2 separate regions of the Homo sapiens genome follow, and region 1 is linked to region 2. A link means that fine-mapping ties the variant in region 2 to the expression of a gene that starts in the linked region. Tissue or cell type: whole blood. Region 2 holds a variant in brackets; the other region holds the start of a gene. All regions are shown on one strand. Distances are from middle to middle.

Region 1 (2,740 bases), 52 kb before region 2:
AGCCCCATCCTGGCTCAGCCCTATTCTGATGGGTCAGCAGGACCCCAAGGAGAGAAGGGTGGGTCCTTGGCACTAAGACAGTTCACAGTGGTTAGCTGACTCCTTCTTGCCTCCATTCTTTCAGGAACTGCATATAGTACAGAACATGACAGCGATTCGAAAAACAATATCCCAGCTGGCTGTGATGGCTCATGCCTGTAGTCCCAGCACTTCGGAAGGCTGAGGTGGGATAATCACTTGAGCCCAAGAGTTCAATAGTAGCCTGGGCAGCATAGCCAGATCCTATCTCTACAAAAATTAAAAAGATTAGCCACGCGCGGTGGCATTCGCCTGTAGTTCCAGGTACTCCAGAGGCTGAGGTGGGAGGACTGCTTGAGTCCAAGAGGTCGAGGCTGAAGTGAGCGGTGAGTGTGCCACTGCACTCCAGCCTGAGAAACAGAGCAAGACCCTGTCTCAAGTGGGAAAAAAAAAAAAAGGAATCCCTGCCCTTTCAGCCTCTCCTGTAAACAGGGATTACAGGCACGAGCTACCTCATCGGGCCTTAGTTTTTGAAGCTAGCAGAGGCCAAGATACAACAGCCTTCTAAAACAGGACCAGGGACTGGTGCTTATAAGCAGGGAATGCGGCAGAGTACGATGGCTCACGCCTGTCATCCCAGCACTTCGGGAGACCGAGGTGGGCGATCACCTGAGGTCAGGAGTTGGAGACCAGCCTGGCCAATATGGTGAAACCCCGTCTCTAATAAAAATACAAAAAAAATTAGCCGGTCGTGGTGGGGCGCGCCTGTAATCCCTGCTGCTTGGGAGGCTGAGGCAGAATTGCTTGAACCTGGGAGGTGGAGGTTGCAGTGAGCCGAGATCGCGCCTCTGCACTCCAGCCTGAGTGACAGAGCGAGACTTCGTTTAAAAAAATAAAAATAAATATATATTTTTAAAAGCGGGGAATGCAGCCTAAGTCTCTTTCCTTCCTTCCTTTTTTTTTTTTTTTCTTTTTTTGAGACGCAGTCTCGCTCTGTCGCCAGGCTGGAGTGCAGTGGCGCGATCTCGGCTCACTGCAACCTCGGCCTCCTGGGTTCAATAGATTATTCTGCCTCAGCCTCCAGAGCAGCTGGGGTTACAGGCACGCGCCACCACGCCCGGCTAATTTTTGTATTTTCAGTAGAGATGGGGTTTCACCATGTCGGCCAGGATGGTCTTGAACTCTTCCTGACTCAGGTGATCCGCCCGCCTCGGCCTCCCAAAGTGCTGGGATTGCAGGCCTGAGCCCCCGCACCCGGCCGCCGCAATTACTTCTGCACCAGCCTAATACCTCAAGTCCAGGAGCCTCAGGCCCCGCGTCTATTTCCTCCGACTGCGGCGCGGCTGATACTGCCTGAGGCGGGTGGAAGCTGTCGCGCGTCCGGACGCGACCAGTTCCCGCCCAGCAGCCGGTGCGCAGGCGCGGGCAGGGAGGGCGGCTGTGCGGGGCGCTCGCGGGCTTCAGCGAGGCGGGAGGGCGGCCCTGTTGCCCTGGAGACGCTTTCCCTGCTGCCGGCCGCGACCGCAACCCGCTAGGCCTTCATCGCGAGCTACGCCCGGACCGAGAAGCCCCGGCATGGCCACGTCCATCGGAGTGTCCTTCTCGGTGGGCGACGGGGTGCCTGAGGCTGAGAAGAACGCAGGGGAGCCCGAGAACACCTATATTCTGCGGCCTGTTTTCCAGCAGAGGCGGGTAGAGGACGGGCTGTGGCGGGGCGACCTCGAGCGCGCTGGTCTGAGGGGCGGAGCTCGCCTGGGACCTGGGCCACGGAAGGAGCGCGGGGGACGCGCGGGGTCCGCGGGGCGGGAGGCGGGAGGCCGCGAGGCGGGCGGGCGGCCCTGCTGTGACGTCCGGGCGCCCCTCCCGCTGCAGGGGCCGCAGGGGACCCCACCCGCTTCCTCAGTGTTTGGGCGCCGGGCGCGTCTTAGGGTGGCGCGGCGGGAATGGTTGGCCCTGGGAAACCCGCGATGGCGTCCTGAGTAAGGAGATGGGTAGAATAGAGGCAGGAAGCCACTCGCGTCGGATGCCGTTCAGCCGTGATTCGAGGGTGACTGTGCACACGGGTGCCAGGATGGGCTCACTCCCGGCGCGGGAGCTGCATCTGTGCGAAGTCCTACCCGGGTGGGATCTGGAGGCCCTTAGACCACCGCAGCGAGCCCTCGCTAGGATTAAGGCTCACGGGCCAGAGCAGAGGGTACTCAGCTAGGTTTGTGAGATCACTAACTTTACACACACACACACACACACACACACACACTGAAAAAAATATCAGGCTCACGGGCCAGAGCAGAGGGTACTCAGCTAGGTTTGTGAGATCACTAACTTTACACACACACACACACACACACACACACACACTGAAAAAAATATCAGGCTCACGGGCCAGAGCAGAGGGTACTCAGCTAGGTTTGTAAGATCACTAACTTTACACACACACACACACACAACACACACACACACTGAAAAAAAATGTCAGGCTCACGGGCCAGAGCAGAGGGTACTCAGCTAGGTTTGTAAGATCACTAACTTTACACACACACACACAACACACACACACACACACACACACACACTGAAAAAAAATGTCAGGCTCACGGGCCAGAGCAGAGGGTACTCAGGTTTGTAAGATCACTAACTTTACACACACACACACACACACACACACCACACACACACCACACAACACACACACACACACACACACACTGAAAAAAATGTCAGG
Region 2 (2,500 bases):
TCTAGCTCTGAATCTCCTTTGAACTCTATAACAAAAGCAAGCAAGACTTTTTTCTTTTTTTAACAGCTTTATTGAGTTATAATTGACATATCATTTACAGTATACAATTCAGTGGTTTTCAGTTTATTCACAGAGTTGTGCAACCATCACCATGACCAATTTTAGAATTTTTTTCTTTTTTTTTTTGAGACAGGGTCTTGGTCTGTTACCCAGGCTGCAGTGCAGTGGTGTGATCATAGTTCACTGCAGCCTCAACTTTCTGGGCTCAAACAGTCCTCTCACCTCAGCCTCCCAAGTAGCTGGGAATATAGGTGCACATCACCATGCTTGGCTAATTTTTAAATTTGTTTTTGTAGGGATGGGGTCTCACTATGTTACCCAGACTGGTCTCAGTCTCCTGGATCAAGCGATTCTCCTGCCTCAGCCTGCCACAGTGTGGGATTACAGGTGTGAGCCACCATGCCTGGCCTGGGATATTTTTATCACCCCAGAAAGAAGGCCTGTACTCATTAGCAGTCACTCCCCATTTCCCCCCAGTCTCTCCAGCCTCTGGAAGCCACTAATCTGCTTTCTGATTCTGTGGATTTGCCTGTTCTGGACATTCATACAAATGACATCATACGGTATGTGGTCTTTGGGGCTGGCTTCTTTCACTGAGCTTGTTTTGAAGATTCATTCGTACTGCAACATGTACAAGTACTTAATTTTTTTTTTTTTTTTTTTTGAGACTGAGTCTCGCTCTGTCGCCCAAGCTGGAGTGCAGTGGCGCAATCTCGGCTCACTGCAACCTCCGCCTCCTGGGTTCAAGTGATTCTCCTGTCTCACCCTCCCGGGTAGCTGGGATTACAGGCGCCAGCCACCACATCCGGCTGATTTTTTTTAATTTTTATTTTTGGTAGAGACGGGGTTTCACCATGTTAGCCAGGATGGTCTCGATCTCCTGACCTCAGGTAATCCGCCCGCCTCGGCCTCCCAAAGTACTGGGATTATAGGCGTGAGCCACCGTGCCCGGCAATTTTTTTTTTTGAGACAGAGTCTCACTCTGTTGCCCAGGCTGGAATGCAGCGGTGTGATCTCGGCCTCCCAGGTTCAAGTGATTCTCCTGCCTTAGCCTCCTGAGTAACTGGGACTACAGGCATGCGCCGCCACCACGCCTGGCTAATTTTTGTATTTTTAGTAGAGATGGGGTTTTACCATGTTGCTCAGGCTGGTTTCAAACTTCTGACCTCAAGTGATCCGCCCACCTCAACCTCCCGAAGTGCTGGGATTACAGGTGTGGGCCACCACGTCC[G/A]GCCAGTACTTCATTTTTTTTTTATTGACAAATAACATTCCATCATATATCACATACTACTTTTTAGTTATTCATTCTCCAGTTGACATTTGGGTTGAGTAAGCAAGATTTTCTTGCATTTTTATTTATTTATTTTTTTGAGATGGAGTCTTGCTCTGTCGCCCAGGCTGGAGTGCAGTGGCCTGATCTCGGCTCACTGCAAGCTCCGCCTCCTGGGTTCACGCCATTTTCCTGCCTCAGCCTCCCGAGTGGCTGGGACTACAGGCGCCCGCCACCAAGCCTGGCTAATTTTTTGTATTTTTTAGTAGAGACGGGGTTTCACCGTGTTAGCCAGGATGGTCTCGATCTCTTGACCTCGTGATCCGCCCGCCTCGACCTCCCAAAGTGCTGGGATTACAGGCGTGAGCTACTGCACCTGGCCTTTATTGCATATTTACAATGCGCTAGTATGGCAGTAGGTGGTAGACGTGTAAAGATAAACAAGACCTTCCTTTTATGAGATGTGAGCATAGAGTAGAATTCTATAGCCTAGAGCTCATTAGTTTATTTATTTTTTTTTAATGGGCACTTGCAGGCCAGGCACAGTGGCTCACGCCTGTCATCCCAGCACTTCGGGAGGCTGAGGTGGGCGGATCACCTGAGGTCAGGAGTTCGAGACCAGTCTGGCCAACATGACGAAACCTCGTCTCTACTAAAAATACAAAAATTAGCTGGGCGCAGTGGTGGGCGCCTGTAGTCCCAGCTACTCAGGAGGCTGAAGCAGGAGAATGGCGTGAACCCAGGAGGCGGAGTTTGCAAGTGAGCTGAGATCGCGCCACTGCACTCCAGCTTGGGCGACAGAGCGAGACTCCGTCTCAAAAAAGAAAAAAAAAGGGTAGGGGGACTTGCTCTGTTGCCCTGGGCTCAAGCTATCCGCCCACCTCTGCCTCCCTAAGTGCTGAGATGACAGGCGTGAGCCACCACACCCGGTGGAGCTCATTAGCTTTAGAAAAAGTACTTTCCTTGCATGTAAAGAAAGGAATAGGAAGGATCACCAAGTAGTAGATACCTGGGTTGGTGGGTCAGGATGAAATGGATAGAAAAGAGACAAAGGAGTTAAGAAGGAAAAACTAGGAAAAACTTTATGGCTATTTTGTCGATAAGTATAAATCATTTATTGATACAGATGTTTCTAAAGGTTCAATCAAAAGGATCACAAAAGTATTTACA

What was found. PIP is the estimated chance that this variant, and not a neighbour inherited with it, causes the effect.
Region 1: DYNLT2B starts here. The variant in region 2 is fine-mapped to the expression of DYNLT2B in whole blood (TOPMed, PIP above 0.99).

What each region holds. Positions count from the first base shown.
Region 1 is chr3:196,317,006-196,319,745 of GRCh38, reverse strand. DYNLT2B (dynein light chain Tctex-type 2B) reads left to right here and starts at 1,506. Exons shown (of 5, transcript NM_152773.5): 1 at 1,506-1,706. The coding sequence starts at 1,594. All of the region lies in intron 5 of TM4SF19-DYNLT2B (TM4SF19-DYNLT2B readthrough (NMD candidate)), which reads left to right. TM4SF19-AS1 (TM4SF19 antisense RNA 1) reads right to left here and starts at 1,414. Exons shown (of 2, transcript NR_046724.1): 1 at 1,309-1,414. LOC107986031 (a long non-coding RNA gene) reads left to right here and starts at 2,155. Exons shown (of 2, transcript XR_001740547.2): 1 at 2,155-2,740. RefSeq lists an enhancer at 1,577-1,676 and a silencer at 1,737-1,986.
Region 2 is chr3:196,265,403-196,267,902 of GRCh38, reverse strand. The region is part of intron 2 of PCYT1A (phosphate cytidylyltransferase 1A, choline); the gene reads left to right. Among named protein-coding and RNA genes, the nearest start is that of PCYT1A, 21 kb to the left of the region's middle. The variant G/A (reference allele first, on the strand shown) is at 1,292.